Homo sapiens: one gene and its partners. The protein of the gene in region 3 interacts with the protein of the main gene of each other region in a pairwise test. Each region holds a gene or a part of one and is shown on either strand. Other genes may lie near its edges.

Region 1 (7,128 bases), on a different chromosome or scaffold from region 3:
TGTGAACCCAGGAGGCGGAGCTTGCAGTGAGCCAAGATCGTGCCACTGCACTCCAGCCTGGGCGACACAGCATGAGACTCCGTCAAAAAAAAAAACCCATCAAACAAAACCCATTAAACAAAACCCATCACACAAAACCCATTAAAATAGGTGCATCTTACTGTAAGTTACACCTCAATAAAGTTTGATGTAAAAAATCAAAGCATGGGCTGGGCACAGTGGCTCACGCCTGTAATCCCCGCACTTCGGGAGGCCAAGGCAGGAGGATAATGAGGTCAGGAGTTCGAGACCATTCTGGCCAACACGGTGAAATCCCATCTCTACTAAAAGTACAAAAATTACTGGCCGTGGTGGCATGCGCCTGTAGTCCCAGCTACTTGGGAGGCTGAGGCAGGAGAATCACTTGAATTCGAGAGACGGAGGTTGCAGTGAGCTGAGATTGCACCACTGCACTGCAGCCTGGCTACAGAGCAAGACTCTGTCTCAAAAAAAAAAAAAAAGATATAAAAATTAACTGGCATGGTAGCATGTGCCTGTAATCCCAGCTACTGGGGAGGCTGAGGCAGGAAAATCATTTGAACGCGGGAGGCAGAGGTTGCAGTGAGTGGAGATTGTGCAACCGCACTCCAGTCTGGGCGACAGAGTGAGACTCCATCTCAAACAAACAAAAAAACAGAAAGCCACATGGTCAGCAAAGCCTAAAATGTTTGCTGCCTAGCCCTTCACAGTAAAAGCTGGCCAACCCCTGGTCTAGCACATTTATTTGGTGCTACCAGCTTCATCATCACCGCCACCTTCATCAGCTGCTCCTTCTGTCTGGAAAGTTCTTCCACCGGATCTTAGGACAGCATGCTCCTTTGTGGGACTCGGATCACATCTTAAGTGCAACCTCCTCAGAGATCTTCTGTGGTTACCTTGTCATTCTCTTATCTCATCACCTTGTTTTAATTCTTGACATGCCAGTTACTGTTTGTTTCCCTGTTGCATCCTAAGAACTTGGCCAGTTCCTGACTCATAGGCAGCACTCAGTAAGTGCAGTGAGCTGAACAAGTGAACAGCTGCTGAGCCTCTGGCACAGGGGTCCCAGCACAGGATGTGACATGGAAGGCTCTGAGCTCCTGGCTGAGCAAGTCTGATGAAAAGGCCTCCCTTTAGGTGTGCGTGCACCAGTGCCAGGAGAGCCTCGGCATGAAAGAAGGGCCTGGAACTGCCACCCAGTTCTCATTTTGGCCAATGGATAGATGTGGCACAAGTGCTAGGGTTAGGACACGCTCGGGGAAGAGCAAGGGTGGAGCTGGGGGTGCTGGTAGTCTGTGGGGTCACCTGAGACTGAGGTTCCTAAGCTGCATGCAGTGGAGAGCTGTATCAATCGGCTGTTCATTCAGACCAGAGGTTCAAGAATCCCTAGAACACAGACCCCAAAGTACAGTCATACAGGAGGAGCCCCCTTGCTAGGTGCCAGCCCAGGCAACCCTCGGGGCAAAGCAGAGTCCAAGTGCATCCCAAGCAGGTGAGGGATGAGGCCAGGACAGGCCAATCAGAGACACGAGGGATGGCCCCAGCCAACAGGGAGGAAATCCAGCTCGAGCACCAGGAGGGGGAAGGACCCCCTAAAGCCACCCCCATCCCAACCCCAGCCCGGGGGACTTGGGGCAGGGGCAGGCAGCTGGCCCTGTAGAGCTCTGAGCGTCCACCACAGTGACAGGTATGGAGCCAGCATGTGTGCAAGTCCACCAGGCAGCCCCCAGCCCCTCAGGCAACCCAGCCGCACGCCGCCGGAGCTCCTCTCGGCGAGTCGTGGCTCTGGGTCCCTGAATCAGGCAGCGCAACCAGAGGCCTCTTCAGGAGGCCCAGGGTACTGCAGGCAAGACCCTTCTCCCAGAGAAACCCCAATACGTCCAGGAAGCAACTGGGGCGCCAAGACGCCCAGGAGGGCTCACTGCTGGACTAGACACACTTTGAGAAAGGCAGCGGTACCCCCGCCTCCACCTCCACCCCCAGGTAGGAATCCAGGAAGAAAAGGAAGGCACAGAGGTTTGGGGAAGGCTAACTTTGCTCTGTCTCCCCTAAGCCTAGAATGACTCCGTACACGGCTCCCCTCTCTGCACCCATGGAAATTAATCCCACCGTGCCCCGGGCCTCCGCTCTGGTACAGACAGGGGCCCACACCAGTCCTGGACGCTCCCTCCCAGGCGGGGTGCTTGCTTAGTTAGTAATTCTTGCCCTGATCCCAATTCCTGAGGGGTGGTCCGGACGCCCCGCACTACAAGTGAGGTCATTTGAATCCCTGAAAGTTGAAGGAACTTGCCCCAGTGAGACTCCACTTTCTCCTTCAGCCTAGCTCCAAGGCCCACACAAAGCTTAAGTTTGGGTAAGTCCCTTCTCTGCGGCCTCGATTTCCTCATCTGAAAATGAAGACAATTCCGGAGCTGTCTACCTGACCGACGGGCTGCGGAGAATCCACACACCTTCGCCTTGGAACAAAACGCGAAGCGCCCACCGGCAGCCTTCGGCTCCCTGCCTTTCCTGACCGTTGGCACCTGCTGCCCTGGGCCTCAGCCAGCAACGCCCAAGGCGGCCCGGCGGGACCTGTGCCCTGGGCGCCCGCGTGCCGGCAGCCGCGTCTCCCGAGGGCCCCTCCCCGGCCTCCTCCGTCGCCAGCCTCCTCTCTCCCTTCGGTCTCCTCCTCCTCCCGCCCTTCCCGGCCTCCTCCCTCTCCTCTGCCTCATCCTTCCCCGGCCCGGCCTCCTCTCTCGGTGTCGACCCAGTGCCCCTCCTTCCCGGGCCCGCCACTGCTCTCCCTGGCCGGGGCCCCTCTCCCTCGCTCCGCTCCCGCCGCAGGACCCGGGAGTCCGCGCCTCACCTCGCGCCCCGCGCCGACCGCCGCACAAGTGGGTCCGCTGGCTTCCGCGGGTCAGTGGGCCCCGCGCTCCCTGAGGCGCTGCGGGGGCGGGCCCCGCACCCGGCCCTCGCCATGGCAACGCTACACTTCCGGCCCGCGGTACCCATAGCCGGAAGCCGCGGTGCCCCGTGGGAGCCGGGGGCGGAGCCTGGGAGGAGGAAATGTCGGGGGCGGGGCCTGGGGAGGGACGGTCGGGGGTGGGGGCCAACGCGGACAGCTGCGGGCGGCCGGGCGAGTCCTCCGCGGCTGGGACCTCCTTGGGGCGTGGGTGGGACGGGAATGGCTCAAAGTGCTCCAAGGCTCCCGGGACGGTGGTCATTGATTTATGCTGGACAAAACCGAGTCATCGCGGGCAACGGGACGGGCGCCAGCGGAATGGGTGGCAGCTTTGGGGGTGGTTTCGGGCCCAGGACAGTGCGGTCGGAGAAGAGCGGTCAGAACTTGGGGAGCCTCCAGCGCCCCACCAAGGAAGCGCCAGTGGAGAGGGGGGTGCCTTAAAACTTACGGGAGACCGGGCGCGGTGTCTCACGCCTGTAATCCCAGCACTTTGGGAGGCCGAGGCGGGCAGATCACGAGGTCAGGAAATCGAGACCATCCTAGCTAACCTGATGAAACCCCGTCTCCACTAAAAATACAAAAAAATTAGCCGGGCGTGGTGGTGGGCGCCTGTAGTCCCAGCTACTCGGGAGGCTGAGGCAGGAGAATGGCATGAACCCGGGAAGCGGAGCTTGCAGTGAGCCGAGATCACGCCACTGCACTCCAGCCTGGGCGGCAGAGTGAGACTCCGTCTCAAAAAAAAAAAAAAAATTATGGGAAAGGCCCGGCCCGGTGGCTCACGTCTGTGATCCCAGCACTTTGGGAGGAGGCCGAGGCCAGTGGGTCACTTGAGCCCGGGAGACCAACCTGAGCAACATAGGCAGGCCCGGTCCCTACCAAAAATTAAGAAATTAGCTGGGCTCTGTGGCGCACGCCTGTAGTCCCGGGACGCTGAGTCGGGAGGATCGCCCTAGCGGGGGAGGTGGAGGCTGCACGGGGCCCAGATCGCACCACTGCACTCCAGCCTGGGCAACAGAGTGAGACCTTGTCTCAAAACAACAACAACAACAAACACTTGTAGGAAAGAACGACGCCTTGCTGACCGAATGGGGTGAAGTGGCCACAAGTATTAGCCTCATGAGGCACAGGATTGTGCAGCCATAACCTAGGGAACACAGCAGAGAGGTGGTGGCAGGAGTCCTGAGGGAAACCACGTGGCGTCTGAGGGGAGAGTCAGAGATAGAAGGAAAAGGGGCACCACCCGACCGGGGGTGTGGGGGGCAGGAGCAGTGTGGTACCCCACATACAAGGCCCCTTGCGGCCCAGGCCTCCTCCTCCTGGACACTTGCTGCCTGTCCCTCCCCTCCACACCTCAGGGTGTGCTGGACCCCACCGTATGCTGCAGATTTTCAGCCCTTTGAGGTTATCATGGTGGAGGCTGCACAAGAAAAGCTGAATTCTCAGAGTGAAGGGCAAAAGCATATCCCTGGGCCCCCGTGTGTCTGGGGGCCCTTGGCCTGGTGCCAGCACCAACCACCGCTGCTAATTCCCAGAGCTGCTATCCTCTTGGGCAAACTTGCCCCTTGTGAGGGAGGAGAACCTGGGCTTTGGGGCAGGATACACAATACCAGCCTTGCTTGGGTGGAGGAGCAGAGATGGCTAGGGAGGAGGAGGTGAGCGGTCCACCTGGGCTCCTGAAGCAACTCCCAGGAAATCAGTTGAGTCAATGTGTCCCCCTCTTGTTCCTAGGGTGCGGGCTTCATGGCCTTCTCCTCCAGGAAGCTCCACCTGATCATGTCCTGGGTGGATATCCAGCCCCCATAGTTCAGGGCCTACTAGCAGCTGCTAGATCTTGAACTCCAGGAGCGCCCCACGCCTTGGGAGCTTGGCATGGGCTAAATACTCCCCCATTTGTTAAATGGGGTCCTGAAACCTGACCAGGGAAGACGGGATAAAGTAGCCATGGGTCATCGCAGCCCCTTTGAAGCCGGGCCTGGCCACCCAAAGGCAACTCAGGGGTGGAGACTGAGGCCTCAGGAGAAGCCCCCACTAGAATGCTCTCTGCCCCTCCCTTCCAGATTAACCAAAACCTGCTAATTGTGGAAGCCCTCGGCATGCTCCCCTCCCCCACAGCCTCTTCCTCCCTTCCCTCCCCTCCCCCTTCCATCCGAATGATAAAGGCCCCAGCCCGCCTGCCCCAGCCCGGCCTCAGGTCCCGGCCCTGCCTTCTACACTGCCCCACCGCCCTGCACCCTCCACCCGGCCAGGCCCCTGCCCACGCTGTCTACCGTCCCGCATGGGGCCCTGCAGCGGCTCCCGCCTGGGGCCCCCAGAGGCAGAGTCGCCCTCCCAGCCCCCTAAGAGGAGGAAGAAGAGGTACCTGCGACATGACAAGCCCCCCTACACCTACTTGGCCATGATCGCCTTGGTGATTCAGGCCGCTCCCTCCCGCAGACTGAAGCTGGCCCAGGTGAGCGGGCCCCGGCCCCCACTCTCTCTTTCCCCAGACTCGTTCCCCACCCACTTCCAGGTTCAAGCCCTGACCCCCACCCCTTCCTAGCCCACCCAGGTATGCCAGTGGGACCAGTCCTGAGAGCTGAGGGCCTCAAGGCACGACCCTTCTCCGGGAGCCCCTTGCCCTCTCTGCCGCGCTTCCGCGCAGAAATGTCCTTCTTCGGGGACAGCAGGGGCCGGCACCGCGCGCCCCTGAGCCCGGTAGTGGGGGAGGGGTAGGGCGCTACCCCCTCCCCGTCTGGGCTCACGGCGCCGGCCGGCCGCCTGGCGGTTTCAGATCATCCGTCAGGTCCAGGCCGTGTTCCCCTTCTTCAGGGAAGACTACGAGGGCTGGAAAGACTCCATTCGCCACAACCTTTCCTCCAACCGATGCTTCCGCAAGGTGGGGCAGGCCAGGGTCGGAGCCCGGGGGCGGAGCGCGCGCGGAAGTCCTGAGCATCCAAGGTTGGGCAGCCCCACCCATGTCTGACCCCCACACCCAGGTGCCCAAGGACCCTGCAAAGCCCCAGGCCAAGGGCAACTTCTGGGCGGTCGACGTGAGCCTGATCCCAGCTGAGGCGCTCCGGCTGCAGAACACCGCCCTGTGCCGGCGCTGGCAGAACGGAGGTGCGCGTGGAGCCTTCGCCAAGGACCTGGGCCCCTACGTGCTGCACGGCCGGCCATACCGGCCGCCCAGTCCCCCGCCACCACCCAGTGAGGGCTTCAGCATCAAGTCCCTGCTAGGAGGGTCCGGGGAGGGGGCACCCTGGCCGGGGCTAGCTCCACAGAGCAGCCCAGTTCCTGCAGGCACAGGGAACAGTGGGGAGGAGGCGGTGCCCACCCCACCCCTTCCCTCTTCTGAGAGGCCTCTGTGGCCCCTCTGCCCCCTTCCTGGCCCCACGAGAGTGGAGGGGGAGACTGTGCAGGGGGGAGCCATCGGGCCCTCAACCCTCTCCCCAGAGCCTAGGGCCTGGCCTCTCCACTTACTGCAGGGCACCGCAGTTCCTGGGGGACGGTCCAGCGGGGGACACAGGGCCTCCCTCTGGGGGCAGCTGCCCACCTCCTACTTGCCTATCTACACTCCCAATGTGGTAATGCCCTTGGCACCACCACCCACCTCCTGTCCCCAGTGTCCGTCAACCAGCCCTGCCTACTGGGGGGTGGCCCCTGAAACCCGAGGGCCCCCAGGGCTGCTCTGCGATCTAGACGCCCTCTTCCAAGGGGTGCCACCCAACAAAAGCATCTACGACGTTTGGGTCAGCCACCCTCGGGACCTGGCGGCCCCTGGCCCAGGCTGGCTGCTCTCCTGGTGCAGCCTGTGAGGCTCTTAAGACAGGGGCCACTCCTCCCTCCCGCTCCCACCCCCACCTTGTTGACAGGGAGCCAAGGCGAGGCGGCTGTCTGCGACCACAGCAGCCTCGAAACACCAGGCAGCAGCCTTGCTGGGAGTCCACGGTGTTTATTGGGCCACCCCACGCATGGCCGTGGCCCAGCTGGGCACAACCCTCACCCTGGTCTGTCATGCCTGTTTTTCCTACACTCAGCGGCAAAGCTGCAGGAGCAGGGCTGAGCCTGGAATAGCCCTTCCTAGTCCCCTCTTCTCAGCCCACTACCCATCCATCAGTCACCAGCCGTCACCTCCCCTCCCGTGCTCCAGGCTGGGGGAGGGAGAGCCCAGTGGTGGATCCAGCCTGAAG
Region 2 (7,019 bases), about 16 Mb from region 3:
GGAGGGAGTGTCTTCCTAGGTTGCCAGAGAACAGAGCCTGCTAGCTCCCTTTTGGACCCCACCCTTGGGGCCCCCCACCCACTACCTGCCCAGCCGTGCTCACATTACTGCGGGGGCCTCGGTGCCGGCTGGAGGGCAGGCATTTCTCCTGAACTTCTAGGAGCTGCTGGGCTCTGTGGGAGGGAGTGACATCATGTGTGTAGAAAGAAGGAAAGCTCCTCATTTCTCCTCGAACCCCCCGCCCTGTCCCAGAGGATGGTGAGGGAATGCAGGTGGAGGGAGAGCACCCCCATCTGAGCCCTGGCTCCCAGGGGGACCCCATCCCCAGCTCCTGGCTCTGCGTCACCTCTGATAATTGGGCACGGTGCCCCGGTCCAGGTCCCGCAGAGTGAGGGGGTCAACCCGGGTGCAGAACCATTCCTGCCTCCGCTTGTATGCCGAGTCCACCAGTCGAAGGATCTCTTGGGCTTTCACGCAAAGGGCATGGGGATCTGCCCTCTCAGGCAAGGTGAGGTTGGCACGAATGTAGAAGGGCTCGGCACCTGGTCCCTTTGCCCAGGCTTCTAGGGCCTCGTGGAAGGACTGGCAGGCTGGGCATGGATGGGGCAGGGGGCAGCAAGGAGGACAAGAGGAGGATGGTGAGGTCCAGGATCGGCCTTGGTGGGGCCAAAGACATGGCCCTCTCGAGGCCTGAGTTCCCAGGACCCGACCTTCACCTTCTTAGAATGACTTAGGTCCAGAGGGGGCAGGGACTTGCCCAAGGCCAGTGCCTTCTAGAAACAGAGCCAGGACTCAAACCCAGGTCTCTGGACTCCTAATGTAGTGCTCCTTTCACTGTAAGCTGCTTACAGAGGGAGGCATAGAGAAAGGGCACAAGGACAGACAGAAGGAGGCATCAGCAGGCGGGGAGCCAGGAGAAGGGCAATTGGGGCAAGGCTGGTCCCTTCTCAGGTCCTTGGTCCCTCCCCACCCCATGCACCACGGGTTAGAGGACCCCTCTGGGGCCAACAGCTCCGACTCCCAAGCCAGACTTACCCTTCGAGTCCATCAGGGAGGGGAGTGTGGACCCCTGATTCCAGAGCAAGGTTCTCTGCTGGGCCTCGGCTTCCAGGCACGCCCCCTCCAGACCAGCAGCTTCCACCCTTTGCTGGGAGAAAACCCAGGCAGGGAGGGAAAGAAGTGAGCCTCTGAGAGTAGAGCAGCCCAGGGGCTGGAGGAAGACCAGGTGTGGGGGTGTTTCATGCCTCACAGTTCAGATAGCGCCCCCTCAGAAACTGCCATGCCCAGCCCAGTCAGACCCGTCCCCATCCACAGGACGCCCCCATCCACAGGACTCCCCAACCCGCCCAGCTCATCCAGGTCTTTCTCGACTTGAAGCGCAGGAATGTAACGTGCTGTCAGTTGGCTCCACCTCCCAGTCCCTGCCCAATCAGACTTCAATTAAGCCTGGCTGAGCAGGCAACCACAGCTAATCACTGAGCCCGCTTCGGCTTTGACCAATCCCCAGAAGCTCTGCCCGGTGATCTTGATCCACCAAATTAAGGGATGTCCAGCCTGGGCAAAAGCACTGACCCTACCCCCCCAGCTCAGGAGGCAGGGCCTCACCTCTCTTGGTTCCATCCTGGCGGACCCAGGCCCAGACAGCACCCTGCGCACCACAGCCCCAGACCATCTGTCCCCATAAAACGACAGTCCATCTGGTCCCTTGTCCTGCGGCTCTGGGCCCCCTGGGGGGCTCCGGCCAGACACCCGAATAGCCAGAGACCTGAGAAGGGAGAAAGGAGATGAGAATTGGAGTCCAATCAGTACTTGGATTCAGTTCAGCATTCTTGGAAAACCACAGTGATTTCATTTCCCAAGTATGCCATGACTCCCACCCCCAGGCCTCTCCATCTTCTGTGCCCTCTTCCTTGCCTTCTCCACCTGGGAAATGCTGATCATCCTTCAAATCTCAAGTCACAAGCAGCCTCTCCCCTGGACCTGGGCACACGGTGCAGTGGAGCCTGCGTGCCACAGAGCACTCCAACTTTGCCTTGCCACGGCCCTTTCGTTTCCTCCATCAGAACGAACACCTTCAGGACCAAACTTCTATACTGTTCCGCTCTGTAGCCCTGGCACCAAACCCAGTGTCTGGCACATAGCAGATGACTAATAAAAGCTTGTTATATAGCCAAGCACGGTGGCTCACGCCTGTAATCCCAGCACTTTGGGAGGCCGAGGCAGGCGGATCATGAGGTCAGGAGTTCGAGACCAGCCTGGCCAACATAGTGAAACCCCATCTCTACTAAAAATACAAAAAAATTAGCCGGGCGTGGTGGTGGGCGCCTGTAATTCCAGCTACTTGGGAGGAGAATTGCTTGAACCCAGGAGGCAGAGGTTGCAGTGAGCCGAGATCGAGCCACTGCACTCCAGCCTGGGCAACAAGACTGAAACTCTGTCTCAAAAAAAAAAAAAAAAGCTTGTTATGCTCACAGTCTGAGGAGGGAGGTCACCATTAGCACGTGGCACAGATCCAAAGGTGGTTACAACCAGCCGTGGAAGCAGAGAGAGGCTTCCCACGGAAGAAGTACCTAGGCTACACGCTGGTGAAGAATAGATGCACTTTGGTGACAGATGGAGGAAACAGAGTTCCAGGCTGAAGGAATATATCAGAGCAAAGGTGTGGAGGACAGAACACAGGATGCGTGGAAGAATTTAATAATAACAATAGCAGCGAACACTTCCTGGGTGCTTTCCATGTGCCAGACACCATGCTGAGCTCCTTGCCCTAATTCTTATTTTACATCCTGGGAAGCAGCTCCCAGGAAAGGCAAGCTGGAGCCACCCTTTGGAGGGCGTGGAACAGAGGCGTCTGGTTTTCCTCCCATGGGCAGGAGGACCACTGACAATTAAGACGTCACCAAAATCCCCATCATGGTAGGGTTCTGCCTGTCCCTGGATGAGAAAAGGTGAGGCCTTGTGGCCAGGCTCAGAGACAAATGGACCCCAAGTCCCCTGCCAGACACCTTGGCCTGGAGGAGGTGGGGAGACCAAGGTCAGCAGGTGTGCTGGCTGGAGAGGCAGCGGGGCGAAGCATCTCCATCCACCCCAGCAGCTGCAGCCCAGACACAGCTGCACTGCCCCCTGCTGCCAGCCTGGGGAGGGCGCGGCTGCAAGGACCTCCCACCCAATCGGCACTGCTGGGGAACAGCCCCGCCCTCTCAGGTAAGACACAGAGCCAGGCCGAGGGGCTGGACAGATGCAGGCATGGGAGGCATCATTCAGTGCCGCATGTCCTGGCTGCATCGAGGTGGCATGGAAAGGGGGCAGGCCTGAGACCTGGCCTGGCTATGCTGGCCCTGGCTTTGTGGCTGGAGCACACGGTCCGCTCCAAACCCCAGGGCAAACTGCACCCTAGCCTGGGCAAATGAGCCGGCTGCTGAGCGTCAGTTACCACATGCATAACACGAAGCTGACAATGACACCCCTTGCCCTCTGTGGGTGCTGGGGGGTGGGGGGGGGGGGCACATGAATAAAAGATAATGCAGGGAGAGGTGGAAACCAGAGGACTCTGGGGCCTCCAAACTGCAGGCCTGGCCCTTAGTGGCTGGTAACATTCACTGGGTTGCGACTGGGACAGCTGGATAATGCTATGGAATAGAAAGTACAATGCTATCCCCCACCCCGCTCCCGCCACCCCAGGTAAATCCAATTATTATCTCATGACCTTTTTGTTCCAGGCATGTGTACCGGGTTTCTCTCACTGTGGGTTGTGGTCAGATGGTCCGAGAAGCACAGCACGCAGGGTGCCAGCAGGAACTCTGGGGTCAAACGGCCCAGCTGCTCAGCCGCTTGAGCCTCAGCTCCACCCACCTCCCTGGCTACTCGCTGAGTTTAGACATGGGCAGCTCTCAGAACAGGGCCCAGGAGACACTAAGTGCTCTGTCAAAACTAGACATTTACTGGCATCAGGTGTGATTCACAACAAATCACCTCTCGCTTGCCTCAGTTTCCCCACCTGTTTCAAACCCACAGACAACTGACCATCATGGCCTCTCCAGACCAGAGCCCAGTAAGCAGCTGGCATCCAGGCTCTTCCACCAACCCTACCCACCCCACCCACCTCTACTCGCTCCCTCCTCCACACCTCTCCCCTCTGCAATGCAAGCATCAAGGCTGACCTCAGCTTTCAACTCAGGTTTTTCAGGCTCTTCTTGACAACTCCTGCAGCTCCCTGAAGACCCAGCTCAGGCGCCCCCTCCTCCAGGACGCCCTTGCCAACCTCCTCAAAGGACCAGTGACTTCTCTGAGCCTCCACAGACCAGGAATACCTGCTCCCAGCACTCCTCGGAGTCTGCAGAGCCCACAGGGGCTTGCCCAGAGCAGGGTCCAGATAGGGTTCCTCCCAGCCCCCCGCCTCAGCAGACAAGCAGGAGGGGTAGAGAAAGGACACAGCAGGGAGAGGGGCTGCCTGCTCCCCGCTCCTGGGACTGGCTGACCAGCTGGCTGCCTGTGTGGTACTAGGAAGCACAGTGTCCTTAGCTACCAGCTCCCAGCCCCCTCCCCAGTCAGGTCAGGTCACAGGCAGACAGGAACGGGGCAAGTCTGCCAGCTCTGCCAGCTCTGAGCAGTGACAGGCCACATGGCCTCAATGAATGTCCCCCAGGGCCCCGTGGGAAGATATCTGAGTAGTCTGCGTGCCTGCTTGGTACCAGGTCAGGGACCTGATGCTGAGACTGAAGCATGCCACACAGATCACCTCAGTCAATCCTCCTGACAACCCGATGGTTGAGATAAGGGAAACTGAGGCACAGGAAAGTTAACTTGCCAAGAATGGGCACAGCTAGTGGGCCGTGGAGCCAGGCAATGACTTATGGGAACCCTCTCTTTGCAAGGACAGAAGGTGCCAGAGATCCCCTGGGGCCACGTGAGCGAGCTGGGCAGTGGTGAGGCTATGCTGGGGAGACGGCACCCCGAAACCCTCCAGTGCTCTCCATGCTCTGCCTCTCTCACCCAGCACCTCACTTGCCCCATGAGTTCTCCCTTGCTGTCCCCCACCTGACTATCTGTCAGCCCAACCCCCGGTCTGCCCCAGCCCCCCACTATCCACCATCCCCTCCCGGCACCCAGGCTCCAGGAGCTGAGAAGGGCAGGGCAGAGAGGCTGAGGGCAAGAGATGGGCAGGAAATGGGAAAGAGGAGAGAAAATGCCCAACATGGTGCCCAGTACAAAGTGGGCACACAATACGGATGTGAGATCTCCAACAGCTGAGACAGTGGGGAGGCACATCGGAATCTCCAACCAGCTCCGAGGGGCCTGTGACTTGGGACCAATTTCTAACTGTCTCTGTACTTCAGTGTCCTGGTCTGTGTAACGAGGTTAAAATTCCAGCCTTGCAGAGCTGCTCTGAGGATTAAACAACAATGGCGACAATAATCATAACTAACCGCGAGCATATGCTGACATCCACCGTGAGTGTGCTAAGCATTCTAGAAGGGATACTCAAACCCCCATAGTGACCCTAAGGGACAGGCACTATGTGAGCCCATTTTACAGAGCAGGAAACTGAGGCACTGGGAAATTCAGAGACATGCCCAAGGTCCCACAGTAGCAAGTGCTGACACCAAAGCCAGCTCTTCCCACCTCGCCATAACACAATCCCAGGAGACACACAAGTTGCCCCGACCTGGGACCTGTCCGGGCCCTCATCTCCCTCTCCCTCTCCTCTCCGCCTGTCTGCCTCTCTCTCTCTCTTTCTCTCTCTCTCTCTGTCCACCACCTCTGCACCTTCCCCAGCCTGTGTTCTTCCCCAGGAACCTCTCTCCTCCCCAGGAACAGCATGGGCAGCAGAAGTGGCCCCATGTGATCGTGGGGCCTGGGCGGGGCTGGGACGGAGGCTCCTGCTCCCTGGCTGCATCCTGGCGCCCCCTGGACAACAGCCAGGACCCCTGCTGCAGCCCAAACTGGAGGAAGGGAGGAAGGGCCGAGGCGAGCAGGAAGGGAGGCGCCTCCACCCCTTCCCCGAGAAGCACGTCCTGCACAGGCAAAAACAATGTCTCGCTGAGCCCACTGCCGGGGGCCAGGTGGGGGCAGGGCCTGGACACTGGCTGACCAAGCCGCTCCGGAGGCCAGAGGCCCTGGTCCTATGCTGTACCCATCTGCTGCGTGACCCATCCCTCTGCACCCAACACCTCCACATTCCAGCGCTGACAGTCCATGTTTCCTATGCCCTTTCCAAAACCCAAATCTGATCAGGTCACTATGAACCCAGACCTGGTACTTCCCAACTGTGGGACCCTGGGCAAGTTGCTTAACCTCTCTGAGCCCCAGTTACCTCCTCTATGGAGCAGAGATAATCGTCATTATGCCTACTCCCTGGACAAAGAGCATGTTGTAAAACAGCCAGCAGCTGGCCTTGCAGTTAATAACTAAACCCTCCCACATTTCCCAGAGTGTACAAGCCAAAGTCCACACTTTCCCAGCCTGACTCAGGAAGCCTTGACTTTCGCCCTTCCCCCTCGCTCCTCCTCCACAGTCACCGGATGCTCTCCCTACCTGCCCTCTCCTCACAGCTGAGTTCCAAGACCACAATGGCCGTGCAGCCCCCGCTCTGCCCCACCCCTCCCTTAGATACACTGGCAGGTGTGAACAGCGGCCACGCACCGGCCACACTAACAGCACGTCGCCTACAGTGCACTCTGCACTAATGGGCTTTGTGACTCCTGTTATGGACCTGTGGCTGGCCCGGTCACAGGGGCTCCTGAGGTGACCCAAGCCCACCCACAGCATGAAACTTTGCTGGGTGGCTCAGTCCCAGGGACTCAGAGCCAAGGGACTGACAGGCAGGACATTGGGACGAGGACAGCTTGTAAGTGACAACTATTACTAAGCACCTGCTACATGCCTGGCAGAGCTGGGTGCTTTGCTTCTGCGAGCAGAGCCCTCAAAAGACCTCCATGCAAAAAGGGTCATCATCTCCCTTTAGCTACTGAGGAAATGGAGGCCCAGAGAAGTGAAGGGACCAGCCCAAGTCACAGGGA
Region 3 (8,009 bases):
AACACCTGGTAATAGCTAGGCCAGGATTCATGGGCCCCCATCAGCTTGACCCCTGCCCAGGAGGTTTCCACAGTGCAGGGCAAGAGACCTTGACCTTGAGCACCTGTTAGTGACAGTGGCTGCTAGGAGTGGTGGGTCAAGGAGCCCTTCTCCTGCAAACTCATGCCCGGTCCTACTTTTGAGGAGGTCACCTCTGGACACAGTGAGGCGGGAGATGAAGAGGCAACTGGAGAGAGCTCAGGGAGAAGGTAGCAGGAAGAGCGGGGGTAGGGGGAGGAAAGTGGAGGTGTGACAGGGCCCCTGAGGTGGCCCTGGCTGCAGGCCACCTCCACCACAATCCCTGGCGTGGGCAGGGTGAGGTGCAGGCCCTGCCAGGGCTGGGCCCTCTGGCTGGAGCTCAGGGAAACAGGTGGGTTTTGTAATTTGGGATCTGAGTCAGGTGCCTCCTCCCTGGAGTGGAGTGAGGGGCTGGGGACATTGGGCTTCTCCGTGGGTGTCACCTTGAGTTTGAATCTGGTGGCCACCTGGGCACTAGACATGGAGGGGGAGCCTCCTCTGTCCTTGCGTTTTCTCTGAAGCATCTTGGGGCTGGAGACTGTGGGGCGGGGGGAAGCATAGGGCTGCCCGCCATTGGTGGGTTTAGCTGGCTCAGAGCCCAGAGGCGGCAGATCTGAGGTGGGCTCCAAGCTGGTGGGGAACAGAGGACGGCCGTCGCGGCAGTGGGCGCCACGGAGCTTATCCACAGCCTGGCTGACCACGCTTTGCAGGGCAGGGAAGAGGCGGTGGTCAGCCAGGAAGTTCAGCGTGCGATGGGGCTCACGGAGCGGACAGTAGCCAGGCAGGTCGAGGGACTCCAGCTGGCTCAGTAATGACTTGATCTCCTTATTGAACTCTCGCTTGCGGAAGATTGGCTCCTGTTCTCCAGGCCTCGGCTCTGATGCTTCAGGCACGCCAGAGCTTGAGCCCAGCAGCCCTGAGAACCAGGACAAGGGCTGCTCCTGTGTCCACTGAAAGCTGGTCTGGCTACCCAGCGAATCCCACAGCAGGGAGTCCCTCTGGGAGCAGGACTGACTGAGGCCTTTCTGCAGAAAGAGGGTGACTCTGTGAAGTGTTCAGGAGCAGCCAAGCCAGGGCTGACCCTAGCCCTGGGCTCTCCATGGGAGTCCACCCCACCCAGCCATGGCCCTGGCTCTCACCCCTTCCCTCTCCAGCTGTAGCAGCCGCTTGAGGTTCTTCTCCAGCAGGAGTTTGTCCCTCACAGGTGGCAATGAGCCTTGGGCACCTAGGTCACTGTCCCGGCTGTGGGAGCCCAGACAGCCGGCCATGAGGCTGCTATGGCAGTTGGACATGGAGCTGGAGCTGGATGGGTAGTTGTTGGGGTGTCCAGTGCAGAGGGTCGGCCGTACACGGTGCCGGTGTACGGTGCTGAGGCTGGGCCGGGCATGTGCCCGCCGTCCACCACTTGGCACCTCCACTGGGTCCTGCACCTCCACAAGCGGCACCCCAGCCTCCGTCTTCATGGCAGCCATGCGCTCAGTCGCCTTCTCCACCACTGTCTCCAGGCTGTCCAGGACCTGGCTCTCAGTTAGGAAATCCAGAAAGTGGCCAAAGGGCTGAGGGTGCCTCTTGTTTCGGCGTTGGCCCTGGAGTGCTGAGCTGCCACATGTGGATGGTGGGTGTGGCACACGGCCCGGCTTGCAGGCTGGCCGCATTTCTGGGACCAGTGGCTTCTTGGGCAGCTGCACCTGAGCAGACAGGTATGTCACAGGGGGCAGGGGTGCCCTACAGGTGAAGGGTTCCCTGGGGTAACACTAGGACCTGGGTGGGAGTGAGTAGTGGAAGGAGCTGCATTTTGGAGTCTGGAAGCCCTGGGTTTGGACCCTGGCTCTGCCACCTACAGCCTGATGCCAGTGTGCAAGATGGCCCCTCTTGAGGTCCAATGTCCTCATCTGCAAAGTGGAGGTCTATTCAGGGTCACCCCGAAGCTTTCCTAACACCTACATTTCACACACACAAGTCCTGGCTAAGGAGTCTGCAAGCCTGCTTCTGCCCTGACACGTGGCAGGATGAGCAATCATGAATCTCTCGGAGTCTCCCTCCAGCTCCTCATCTGTCCATGCAGCAGGCCATCCCTGTATCCATGGCAGGGCTGCAAACAACATCTGAGGTCTTGAGTGCAGACAACACCTGAGGTCTTGAGCCCTGTGCTACCCGGGCCTGTTTCTCCAACTTGAGCCATAGGCACCTAGTCAACTCCATGCTCCCACTCTAGGGTCCCAGTCCACCCAAGCACCTTCTGGGTCGCTGGAAGTCAGGAGGAAACAAGGAATGAAATTGAGTGTGACAGGGGCAAGCAGTGGGGGACATAGGAGAAGTCAAGGCAATAAGGACTTCACTAAGAGGCCCAGAGAAGTCAATAGACAATGAGAAATGGGGGTTGTGGTCTTGGGTGCCAGGGTTGGTGGGGAACATGTTGTGGCCTCAAGGGTCGGCGCCCTGCTGGGCACACTTACCCGTGCACTGCACATGGAGTGGCTGGCCTCGTCATCGGCCAGGTAACCCGAGTGGTGGCGGCACCTGGCCATGTGGTCACCTGGCAGGTGACCGGGCCTGCTGCCCACCTCTCTCTTCAGCTGCGCATTCCTCTCTGCGTGGGGTGGGGAGACAACCTGAGGGTCTCCAATAGGTCCACGCATCTGTGGCCCTGGAGTCTGCGGGTCCCTCGCTCCCCGCACCCCGCCTCCTTCATGCATCCAGCCCTTCCTCTGCTCCATGGCCCCCATGCGTCTGCAGGCAGGCAGTTTCCAGAGTCATCGGGGTGGAATCGCTGAGGACAATCCTGTCTCCGATCATCTTTGGATCTGCGTGTGCTCGACCCGCCCTCCTCCCAAACCCTGGGCAACCTGGCTTTCACCCCAGCCCAGAATCAACAGACTCACCAGAAACACCGCCTTGCTCCGCACAGGCCAGTACAGTCTGCGCCCTCACTGGAGCAGCTGCACAGTGCGAGGAAGTCGGCTGGCGGCCTCCACTTGCTTATTTGCATACCACATCCTCATTGGTTCTTACCGAGGAGCTCGTCCACTTCCCTCTCCGACACAATGGTTGGGGGCGGGGCCCACATTGGCCCCACCTCCAATTCTCTGGGCTCTGCCCTCCCACACTCGCCTGGGAGCCGCAGGCTGAGGATGCTGGTGCCCACGCTCCCCGCTGCCGGGAGGACCCCCCACCCACCACCGAAGCTGGGGCTAGGCTCTTTGATCTGCTCCTGCCCCGAGGGGAGCCTAAAAGCCAAAGCCACGTCTTCCACCGGTGGCACAAGCACCTTCCTCGTGTCCTCCTTGGTTGCTGCGCAGCCCTGGGCCTCCTGCTCCTGTTCGTTTCCAGGGGCCTCTGCCCTTCCCGCGGTGTGCACAGCCCCAGGTTCTGCCTTGAGACCTCTCCCCTCTGCAGTGGAAAGAGTGCCGGCTCTAAGTCACAGACCTAGCTTCAGTTCCTGGCTCTGCTCTTTCCTGCCAATGTGACTCAACCTCTCAGCATTAGTCCCACACTGTAAATGGGCTTGAGTGTTCTTCCAATATGGGAGTATGGGATTCAATAAAATCTCCCTACAGCACACCCAGTAACCCAGTGGAGCCTTGTGTATTCTTTAATTAATTAATTTATTTATTTGGAGACGGGAGTCTCGCTCAGTCGCCCAGGCTGGAGTGCAGTGGCGCAATCTCGGCTGACTGCAAGCTCCGCCTCCCGTGTTCACGCCATTCTCCTGCCTCAGCCTCCCGAGCAGCTGGGATTACAGGGGCCCGCCACCACGCCCGGCTAATTTTTTTGTAGTTTTAGTAGAGATGGGGTTTCACCGTGTTAGCTAGGATGGTCTCGATTCCCTGATCTTGTGATCCGCCTGCCTTGGCCTCCCAAAGTGCTGGGATTACAGACCTGAGCCACCGCGCCCAGCGGAGCCTTGTATATTCTTACCTCCTCTCCCTCCCTCCTTTTCCCCTTTGCTCAGTAATACCCCACCATGGTGTCACTTCTTCCAAAAACCTTTTACTGTGAATTCTGCCACGCCCTACGCAATTCACAGTAAACCCCATTCCAGACTCTACCATACCATGTTGCTACTTATTTTTCTATCAGATGGTGCTTCTTTGGGGCCAGAACAGAGGCAAGTCACCCTTAATCTCTAATACTTTCAGTGTCTGGCACCAAGTAGGTGCTCAATAAATGTCAGTCTCCTCCTTCCCACCTGCAGACCCTCGGGACCTCTGACCTTTCCAAGATCAGCTTCCAGTGGAGAACGGTGGTTGGTTGAGGTCTGACAATTCACCAGTCACTATAAACACATCAGTCCTTATGCCAAGAGCATGGCTGAAGGACTCTATGAGGCTTTCAATCCTCACATGCCTCACGAAATATTGTTCCTCTCAAGCTCTGCTCTGTCCTCTCAGCTCTGGCTACCCACTAGGTCAGGGACAGAGAGGACATAGCAGGCCTGGGTGCTGGCCCCGAGGTGTGAGGTTCAGTCTTAGCTCCACTACTCCTGGCAGGACCACACTTTCGCTCTCTGAACCCCAGTTTCCTCATCTGTGAAACAGGAATGACATTACCAATTTCATAGCCCGGACACAAATACCACACTTTCCATGGGAAAAATCAAGACTGTCACATTGCAATGGAAACTGTGGCTGCCAACCATAATGACTATTTATACAGTCATGGGTAAGGAAAGCTTTTCTGGACCAAAGAGAAAACAGTGAAGTTATGAATGTAAAAGCTGTAGCCTGGCAGAGAGCTCAAGATGGAAACTGGAGATAATGTTTTCTCAAATGAAGCCTTAGTGTATATGCTTTCTTTCATTTTCTTAGTGTCTAGAGCTCAAGAAAAAAAAAAAATCAACAAATCAAGAAAATGCCTGCTCTTAGAAAAATCTGCAAAAGATCAATAGGCAATTTGAAAAAGAATAAAAATAGCTAATAATATGAAAATTTTCATTCGCACTGCTAAGAAACTACTAGAATGTGATAACATTGATATAATCATCTTTATGTTCTCAAAACAACACACAAAAAAGTTGGGTTGGGGAGAAAGGGAGTTGGGTGTGTTTATTTGCTTAGAGAAAACACTGGAAGGACACAACCCAGAAAGTTTACAATGGCAATCTCTGGGAAGGGTAGGAGATTCTTTTTTTTTTTTTTTTTTTTTTTTGAGACGGAGTCTCGCTCTATCGCCCAGGCTAGAGTGCAGTGGTGCGATCTCGGCTCACCACAACCTCCGCCTCCCGGGTTCAAGCCACGCTCCTGCCTCAGCCTCCCGAGTAGCTGGGATTACAGGCGCGTGCCACCACTCCCGGCTAATTTTTGTATTTTTAATAGAGACGGGGTTTCCCCATGTTGGCCAGGCTGGCCTTGAACTCCTGACCTCGTGATCCACCCGCCTCGGCCTCCCAAAGTGTTGGGATTACAGGCGTGAGCCACTGCGCCCGGCTTCCTTTTGATATTTTACATATTAAATATCACTTTTGCAGTCAAGGAAAGTTCCGCATTGCAATGAATCCATCACTGGTCTGGTTAGCGCGGGAGCAGTTGCCGGGTCCTTGCAGGGGCACGCCGGACCGCTAGGTGGCGAGAACAAAGGCGAAGTGCAGCCGCACCTGGGCGTGTGCGTCGGGGCGGGGCCCGGGCAGCGTCCGGGGGCGGGGCCTGGGCTGTCCGGCCCACTCCCCTGGGAGCGCGAGCGGTGGACCCAGGCGGCCATGTCCCGCCCTCGCATGCGCCTGGTGGTCACCGCGGACGACTTTGGTTACTGCCCGCGACGCGATGAGGGTATCGTGGAGGCCTTTCTGGCCGGGGCTGTGACCAGCGTGTCCCTGCTGGTCAACGGTGCGGCCACGGAGAGCGCGGCGGAGCTGGCCCGCAGGTGAGGGGAGGGCCTCTAGCAGGGCGGCGATCGGCTTGGGGCGCGCGGCTCCGCGGCCGCTAGTGCTCCAGCTCGCGCTCCGCCCTCAGGCACAGCATCCCCACGGGCCTCCACGCCAACCTGTCCGAGGGCCGCCCCGTGGGTCCGGCCCGCCGTGGCGCCTCATCGCTGCTCGGCCCGGAAGGCTTCTTCCTTGGCAAGATGGGATTCCGGGAGGCGGTGGCGGCCGGAGACGTGGATTTGCCTCAGGTGCGGAGCCGCAGCTACAGGAGGATGCTCGCGAGGACCCCCAGAGCTCCGCCCGGAGGGTACTGTGAGGCCGTTAGGAGCTGGCGGTGGATGACTTCCGCATTCAAACACTGGAGCCATCACACGGAAGCACGAGGAGGGTATCCTCGGCAGCTACTCCCGGTCGCTCAAGGTGTCTCTCGCTCGCCCTCTAGGTGCGGGAGGAGCTCGAGGCCCAACTAAGCTGCTTCCGGGAGCTGCTGGGCAGGGCCCCCACGCACGCGGACGGGCACCAGCACGTGCACGTGCTCCCAGGTGCGTGGTTAGTGATCCCAGTTTGGAGGGCGTTACTCCCAGGCGGGGCTGGGGGAGTAGGGGAAGTTCGATGCCCCCAGGTGAAAGGACGTGCTCCTCCCTGACCCGCTCCGCCCGCAGGCGTGTGCCAGGTGTTCGCCGAGGCGCTGCAGGCCTATGGGGTGCGCTTTACGCGACTGCCGCTGGAGCGCGGTGTGGGTGGCTGCACTTGGCTGGAGGCCCCCGCGCGTGCCTTCGCCTGCGCCGTGGAGCGCGACGCCCGGGCCGCCGTGGGCCCCTTCTCCCGCCACGGCCTGCGGTGAGGCTCCCCGCCCCGTCTCCTACCATAGCTGCCTCTGTCCCTCCGCACTGGCTGTTCACCTGGCTAGCTGTGTCCGTTTCTCAACCCGGAAGCGAGTCTGGCGTCGACCGCTGCCGCCACCCCAGTTACCCCCTCCCACCCCGCCGTCCCTTCCCTAGCCTACCTAGCCCTTGGCCATGGCCCGGCCTGGTCCCACCTCTGATGTCCCGCCCCCCACAGGTGGACAGACGCCTTCGTGGGCCTGAGCACTTGCGGCCGGCACATGTCCGCTCACCGCGTGTCCGGGGCCCTGGCGCGGGTCCTGGAAGGTACCCTAGCGGGCCACACCCTGACAGCCGAGCTGATGGCGCACCCCGGCTACCCCAGTGTGCCTCCCACCGGCGGCTGCGGTGAAGGCCCCGACGCTTTCTCTTGCTCTTGGGAGCGGCTGCATGAGCTGCGCGTCCTCACCGCGCCCACGCTGCGGGCCCAGCTTGCCCAGGATGGCGTGCAGCTTTGCGCCCTCGACGACCTGGACTCCAAGAGGCCAGGGGAGGAGGTCCCCTGTGAGCCCACTCTGGAACCCTTCCTGGAACCCTCCCTACTCTGACCCCCTACAGACAACCAAGCACTAATCCCCTTAGTACCAAGAAAGGGGAGCCAGGATTTAGTCCTGGCCCAGCCCAGAGCTGGGACCTGGAGCACGATCTGTTGACTTCCCTGGGTAGGACACTGCCACCTCTGGGCTCAGGTCCTCATGCCTCCAAATGGCATCTAGAGTTTGAGCAGCCTTCTTGGCTGCAGGCAGGCCTAGCCTGTGGCAGCGGGCTAGGGCCCGCAGAGCATTTGGTGCCCCTCCATGTTGCAATGCAAACACCTTCACCACTGGGGCAGTGGGGAGAGATGGCTATATTAATAAAATAACGTGTGTCTTTCAAACTTGGGTGGTTTATCAGCTGTGCCCAGGAGACCCTCAGAGAAACAAGCACGGACAAAGAGCAGCTCCCTCTTGGCTCAAACCACTCCAGGAAATGGCCCATTCTCCATTCTGGTTTTGTTCATGCTGCAATTTTCTTTATTCCTTTTTAGGGTGGGAGTGGGAGATTGTCCTCACCAGGCTGCTTTGGAAGAGGCATAATACTATAATCTCAGTATTGATTTAAGAAGTCACCTGTAGGCTGAGTGTGGTGGCTCACACCTGTAATCCCAGCACTTTGGGAGGCCGAGGCGGGCAGATCACCTGAGGTCAGGAGTGCGAGACCAGTCTGAC
Region 4 (6,946 bases), on a different chromosome or scaffold from region 3:
GAGATAATTTTTCTTCACCAGTATGCTTCAGGGCAACGCGAGTGGGGCTGTAATGAAGAACAGTCTGTTTCTGGAAGATGCCAACATGCTGAACTGACCCAATCCCCAATCTGTGCAGAGGCCAAGGCTCTTCTGTCTCCATCAGTTAGTTGTAGGGAACTTTTATAAGGCCATAGGAGTAAGTTTATGGGAGAGGTGGCAGTAGAGCAGAGGTAACTGACCTGGGAGTTTGGAAACGTGGGTTTTGTTTTTTTGCCTTAGAAGGCATGACCTTGCTCCAGAATCTTAGGTATTTGTGCTGTGACTCTTTATGATGGGTTGAATTGTACCTCCACCTCATCCCCAATTAACAGGTTGAAGTTCTAGCCCCTAATACCTCAGAATGTGAAATTATTTGGCAATAGAGGCATTGCAGATGTAATTACTTCAAGATGAGGTCATAGTGGATTAGGGTGGGTCCCTCATCTAATGACTGGTATCCTTATAAAAAAGGGAAGTTTAGAGATAGTACACAGGGAGAATGCCAAATGAAGATGAGGGTAAAGACTGGGAAAATGCTTCTTACGATGCCAAGGAATGCAAAATATATCCAGCAAATCCCCAGAAACTAGGAGAGAGGCATGGACAGATTCCTTCTCACAGCCTCAATAGGAACCACACCTTAATTTCTGACTTCTAGCCTCCAGACTGTGAACCAACAGATTTCTGTTGTTTAAGCCACCCAGTTTGTGGTACTTTGTTATAGGAGCCCTAGCACACGAATGCACACTCTTATTGGGGTTTGCCAGCAACTCCATACAGCACCTGTATCCATCAAGGATATTTCTGGAACCACTGAATTTGCAAGTAAGCTTGCACTGTTGCTTGGATTTACTATAGAGTGCTCTCTTGCCCCAATAAAAAGTGGAAGCTGGCCAGGCATGGTGGCTCACGTCTGTAATCCCAGCACTTTGGGAGGCGGAGGTGGGTGGATTGCTTGAGGTCAGGAGTTCAAGATCAGCCTGGCTAACATGGTGAAACCCCTCCACTACTAAAATACAAAAATGCTGGGCATGGTGGCGGGCGCCTGTAATCCCAGCTACTAGGGAGGCTGAGGCAGGAGAATTGCTTGAATCCAGAAAGCAGAGGTTGCAGTGAGCCGAGATCACGGCACTGTACTCCAGCCTGGGCTACAGAGCAAGACTCCGTGTCAAGAAAAAAAAATAGTAATAAATAAAAAGTGGAAGCTTTTTAGGTCACCTAATACATGTGTTGGAACAGTTTTCTCAGGTGCAGAATATGCTACCTCCCAAATCCAAAGGGGCCCACCAGGACCTGTACCAATTTTTTTGGGATTAGAGGGTGCAAGGTGGAACAACTTTCTTTTACCTTTGGGTGATGTCCCCAAACCACTGGGCCCCACCAAAACTTCATCCATTTGATAAGTGCCCATATCTTCAGGTTTCTGTACTGCCTTAGTAAGAAGTCTTACTAGGATATTTATGACCCTTGTCACTTGCTGCTCACTGGGTACTACTAGCATTTGTCATCAATATATGGACCATCATGATGGTTGGGTAAAGTTCCTGCGGACTACACTGTGACAGAGAACAGGTCTCAGGATCCCACCCTCTCCCTGTATGAGCCACGACTTTGACTCAGGGGACCTGCCGAGTCTGCACAATTGGTCTCCTTTACATTACTGTCACTGTTACAAACAGATCCTCGGCCTAATTTTCAGCTTAGCTAGATGCAGAATTACCTTAGTAATTTATAAAAAATCAGCTATTGTATGTATCTAGATCTATTTCTGGACTTTTTTTTCTTTAAGAAATTCAACCTCATATTTCTGGACTTTCTGTTCTGCTCTGTTGATCTATTTGTCTCTATGCTGATACCATACCATCCTGATTACTGTACCTTTAGGAAAAAAATCTTAAAAAAATACAAGTATTCCAATTTTATTCTTTTTCAAAATTGTTTTGGCAATCCTAAATCCTTAGCATTTCTATATAAACTTTAGAATCAGTTTGTTAATTTGCACTAAAAAAAACAAAACAGGCTCGGTGCAGTGGCTCACGCCTGTAATCCCAGCACTTTGGGAGGCCAAGACGGGCGGATCACCCGAGGTCAGGAGTTTGAGACCAGCCTGGCCAACATGGTGAAACCCCATCTCTACTAAAAATACAAAAATTAGCTAGGTGTGGTGGTGCCCACCTGTAATCCCATCTACTCTGGAGGCTGAGGCAGGGAAAATGCTTGAACCTGGGAGCTGGAGGTTGCAGTGAGCTGAGATCGCGCCACTGCACTCCAGCCTGGGCGACAGAGCAAGACTCTGTCTCAACAACAACAAAAAGACAAAAACGAAAAAAGGTAACAATTTTTTGAGTTGTTTCCACCTCTGTCATCTGGCAAACTGTTAAAAGAAAATTTTGCTCAAAAGCAAAATAGCAGCTGCTGTTTCTTAACACTTTGTTATGTTTTGATGAGTACTGGTGGGAAGTGGCCTCTTTAAGTGGGTACCTTTTGTGGTCCTCTCACTGGAGCCAATTGCCTGAGTCAGCTAAAACTTGGACGCGATGTGCCTCACTGCCATAGCTCACTCACCTTTGCTGCTGAAATGGTTTCCCATCACATTGCTAATAGGTACAACCTGTGAAGGGTTCTAGGTGGGGAAATGGCAACTCAGGAAGAACTCCAAACCTTTAGCTCTCCTAGGATATTAAAATGGCCGTTATGAAGAGGAAGAAGTACTGTGTCATCTATTGTCCTGGGGACCTGTCAACAGGAACAATAGATAGACATCACCAGGGGTGTATTTCTGTTCAACACAAGGAAAAGTTTCTAATTGGAGCTGTCCAGCATGAAATGGACTAAGCAGTGCATTTTCTTTCTCCGATCCTGACTCCACTGTGACGGGCACTGCAGACTAGAGAGATTGTGTCCTAGTATGAATTTAGGTTGGATAAATGATACTTAGGGATAAAGAGAGGAAAGGAATATCAGAATCTCCAAGAAGCTGATACATTTTGAAAAAATATATAAAATGCCACACTTCAGGTTTTCTTGTGTTTAATTTGAAACGTCCAGTAACATTAAAGAACAGCATTTGATTTGCTTAAACAAAGTAGTAACAGCTGAAGTTCCTTCCAAATCACTTTTCTGATTCTCTAAGAGGCTTGCCTATGCCTTGCAGATCTAGCTTCACCTACAAGACATATTCTGTAAGGATCCAGGTTCAGCAAGGTGTCAGAATGTCCTAAGGGTTTCTGTCCCGGCGCTCTGCCTGTCCCGCTTGTGCACAATGCTTTTGCCTATCCCTGTTTCTGCATAGATTTTAGTCTTCCCACCAGGGACGCAACTGTCAGTTTCCTCCGTCTCTCTCGGTTCTATTCCAATCTGCTCATCTCCCCTCCCGTCCCCGCTTTCCCCAAGGACCTACTGAGATTTCGATCCCACAACTTAGTGGGTCCCATCTCACCCAGGCCCCGCAATCCTCGCCTTCTACTTGTCAGCGTTGTACTACACTCTGAGCAGGCACCCCTGTGCTACTCACGGAAGCGGGACCATTAGGTCGGCCATTCCTCCTCACCCCACGACACGCACCCACTGGGTCGGGCCGCCTCCTTGCAGGGAGTCTCAAGGATGGGCTGGCGTCAGGGAGGGGCCCAGGGGGCGCTTTCCCAACACTGGTCGCAGTCATTGTTGGTATAACGGCTAGAGACGCCCAGTGAGTTAGCATGGAGGGCAGTGGGACCGGAAAAAGACGTGGAAAAGCTGCGAAAACGAGCCTTCGAATCATGGACGCGCGGGCCCAGCTCCTCCTCCGAGTTCCTCATCCGGGGCCGTCACTCACATCCGGGGCCCTCACTCACATCCGGGACCCTCATCCGGGGCTCTCACCCACATCCGGGACCCTCATGCCTGGGCGGAGGAGGGGGGGCCCTCATTCGGGACCCTGCACTCCGTCGCCGGAAGTGCCACCGAGAAGCGCCGGCCTCGGGGCTGTCTACAGCGGCCCGGGAGAGGCTGTGGTGGCCCCGAGCGCGAGTGTGTAGGTGACAGGACAGCGGCCAGGCCCGCCCCTCCCCTCGGTGAGTACCCGGAAGCCGTTTTGGGGTCGCAGCGGGGTGGCAGCTTGTTTTGCCTTCACGGGAGTAGAAGGAGGCGGCGTCCGGCCGCGGCCGACGGTAGTTCGCTTCCCCGAGAGTGCGCGGAGGCCCGGGTGCGAGGAGGGCCTGTTTCTCTTCAGCCCTGGTTCATTCACCTCGCGGACCGAGGGCCCCGCCGTCAGGAGCCGGCGACCGTGCCCTGGTGCGAGCTGGTCTGTATGTCCTCACTGGTCCTTTTGGGACTTTGCCTTGGCCTAAAAGGGAAGTGGGAGGAGGGCAGCGCCGGGCAAGGCCTTCTGAGGACCGAGCTGGGAGCCGGGCAGGGGCCCAGGGCGAGGGTGGTGGGAGGGGGACGGCACCCTCATGCGTCCTTGGGCCTGAAGGACGCCGCTCAAACCTGTTCGAACCGCAGCTCTTACCTGCGTTGCTCTCAGGATTCCGGGAAAAGGCCGGTCTAGCTGGTCTGAGTTAGCGAAGGGCCTGACCCCAAAAGTGGAGTTTTATTCGCCAAGCCCGTGTAGTAAATCGGAGTGGGCTGACGGTGTTACCAAGACATTTCCTAGGGGGCCTGCTGTTTTATTTATTTAAATGAGTTTATTTACGTAAACGCGGGCCTGTCACGGTGGTTCACGCCGTAATCCCCGCACTTTGGGAGGCCGAAGTGGGAGGATCGCTTGAGGCCAGGCGTTCGAGTCCAGCCTGGGCAACATAGCGAGACTCCCATCTCTGCTAAAACAAAATTAAAATAAAATGAGCAATCATAACTAGCATTTTTCTCTGGGCACCAACTTGAGCCTCCAAAGACGATTGTAAATTTTAAATATTTTGTTTTGTTTATTTGAGGTGGGCTGTCACGCTGTCATACAGGCTGGAATGCAGTGGCGCAGTCATAGCTCACTGCAGCCTCTACCTCCCAAGCTCAAGCGATTCTCCTGCCTTGGCCTTTGGAGTAGCTGGAACTACAGGCCTGGGCCACCTAATTTTTTTTTTTTTTTTTTTTTTTGTAGGGACGGGGTTTCACCATGTTGTCCAGGACGGTCTGGAACTCCTGAGCTTAAGGGATCCACCCGTCTGTGCCTCCCAAACTGTTGGGATTACAGGCTTGAGCCACCGCACGTGGCCAATTTTAAATATTTTAAAGTTTCCACAGAAAGCTTTACACTATTAAATTGTACCGTGTTAATTTTTTTAATGCCACAAATTCCAAATTAGAGACTCTTCTATGATTTGGTTCTTAAGTATTTAAAGCTGAAGCATATCCATATTTCTTTTTCTTTTTTTTCTTTTTTTTTTTTTTGGGACGGAGTCTCACTGTGTTGCCCAGGTTGGAGTGCAGTGGTGCAATCTTGGCTCACTGCCACGTATGCCTTCTGTATTCAAGCAATTCTCCTGCCTCAGCCTCCCGAATAGCTGGGATTACAGACCCGCACCACCACGCTGGCTAATTTTTGTATTTTTAGTAGAGAAGAAGTTGCACCATGTTGATCAGGCTGGTCTTGAACTCCTGACCTCAAGTGATCTTCCCGCCTCAGCCTCCCAAAGTGCTGGGATTACAGGCCACTGCGCCTGGCCCCATTTTTCTGTTACTTATTTAGGGTGGTTAATCATTATCAACTAATTTTTATTGAATATCCATAGTGTGTAAGATCCTTTGCAAAGTCCTGACGATATAAAATGATGAAATGCTTTAACTTATTACAGTAATTTCTCTTAATCTTACCTTGCAGTGATGGTCATTGTCCTCCAGAGCAGTGATGGAGGAAATACCAGCCCAGGAAGCAGCAGGGTCACCAAGGGTCCAGTTTCAGTCTTTGGAGACCCAGTCTGAGTGTCTGTCCCCAGAGCCTCAGTTTGTGCAGGACACCGACATGGAACAGGGACTCACTGGGGGTAAGGCAGAGAAAGCACTTCCGTCTGGGAGAGTGGGAGTGCGGAGGGGCTCCCGAGGGGGCTCCTGGGCCTGGTTTGAGAGAGGCCAAGAACTGGAATAAGAACATGGTCCCTAGAGGGAGGAATGAAAGAGGGGGCAGATGTGACTCAGTTCAGTCCTAGTCTGAGCCCCTTTATTAAGGATAGCTCATCTTTCTCAAATAAGCAGAGTGATGGCTGCTTACTCGCTGTGGTGGTTTTTCCTTCAGGCAACCTTCACTTCATCCCAGTTCTCACATCCAGAATAATTTCTAAGATATGCTGCTTTTGCCACATCTCACAGTCCTTTCCTGGCTCTCACTTCCTCTTAGGTTCAGGACCTTTCTTTCCCCTGTTCCCTTCACTTAGTTTTTCTTTGCTTTGTCACCTGCCATCCATTCTGTTGTAACTGCAGTGTTTTGTGACTAGACTAAATTTGGTCAAGGAAGCAACCATTTAATTCCTTGGTTGAACACAATGCCTGTATGAATGTATATATACTGTATTTTGACTACGCAGTCACACTTTGCTGTATCGTATAGGTAGGTTGGTCTTTTTCTTCCTTTGTTTTATAAGAGCTGTGTCTTAGATTGCCTGTGGTTAACTCTAGTGCCTGAAATAACTTGTGTGTCACCCACACAGATCAAGTGCCACAATGTGTAGAGTGCTGTGGGGGATTGTGGGACTGTGGAAAAGATTTCGAGGAAACAGATGACCCTTTCTTGTTCTTGGGGGCCTTACACACTGGTTGAGACAGCACCCATTCACAAGAGAAACGCTGATCAAGTGTCTAGAACAGTGCCTGGAAAGGGTCAGAAGTCTGCTAAATAACCCTAGCCCAGGACAAGTCCCCACAAGTCTTTATGCTTTGCTTTGCCCATCTGCAAAACAGGTATAGTCTTACTCTTCTGTAAGAGGACTGTCATGTGATGAAGATAAAGTGAAAT

Evidence for each region.
Region 1: the proteins of CCDC116 (region 3) and PPP1R16A interact in binary tests that used the Homo sapiens proteins (3 or more experiments, as listed by UniProt).
Region 2: the proteins of CCDC116 (region 3) and CARD10 interact in binary tests that used the Homo sapiens proteins (3 or more experiments, as listed by UniProt).
Region 4: the proteins of CCDC116 (region 3) and ZNF655 interact in binary tests that used the Homo sapiens proteins (3 or more experiments, as listed by UniProt).

Annotation. Positions count from the first base shown.
Region 1 is NC_000008.11:144,473,863-144,480,990, reverse strand, and holds the start of PPP1R16A (protein phosphatase 1 regulatory subunit 16A), read right to left. Parts: upstream 3,010-7,128; 5' UTR 2,864-3,009; intron 2,641-2,863; exon of another isoform or gene 2,438-2,640; intron 2,406-2,437; exon of another isoform or gene 2,309-2,405; intron 1-2,308. Other genes in the region: FOXH1 (forkhead box protein H1), read left to right, coding at 5,235-5,408, 5,730-5,834, 5,935-6,753. UniProt on the Homo sapiens protein: Inhibits protein phosphatase 1 activity toward phosphorylase, myosin light chain and myosin substrates.
Region 2 is NC_000022.11:37,495,414-37,502,432, forward strand, and holds part of CARD10 (caspase recruitment domain-containing protein 10), read right to left. Parts: intron 1,766-7,019; coding exon 1,606-1,765; intron 1,148-1,605; coding exon 1,036-1,147; intron 591-1,035; coding exon 347-590; intron 174-346; coding exon 104-173; intron 1-103. UniProt on the Homo sapiens protein: Scaffold protein that plays an important role in mediating the activation of NF-kappa-B via BCL10 or EGFR.
Region 3 is NC_000022.11:21,627,758-21,635,766, reverse strand, and holds the start of CCDC116 (coiled-coil domain-containing protein 116), read right to left. Parts: upstream 3,008-8,009; 5' UTR 2,940-3,007; intron 2,788-2,939; exon of another isoform or gene 2,784-2,787; coding exon of another isoform or gene 2,586-2,783; coding exon 2,514-2,585; intron 1,746-2,513; coding exon 1,197-1,745; intron 1,083-1,196; coding exon 501-1,082; coding exon of another isoform or gene 123-500; exon of another isoform or gene 1-122. Other genes in the region: YDJC (carbohydrate deacetylase), read left to right, coding at 5,753-5,916, 6,006-6,165, 6,360-6,459, 6,580-6,757, 6,980-7,349.
Region 4 is NC_000007.14:99,554,715-99,561,660, forward strand, and holds the start of ZNF655 (zinc finger protein 655), read left to right. Parts: upstream 1-3,927; 5' UTR 3,928-4,073; intron 4,074-4,110; exon of another isoform or gene 4,111-4,307; intron 4,308-5,818; 5' UTR 5,819-5,845; coding exon 5,846-5,981; intron 5,982-6,946. UniProt on the Homo sapiens protein: Probable transcription factor.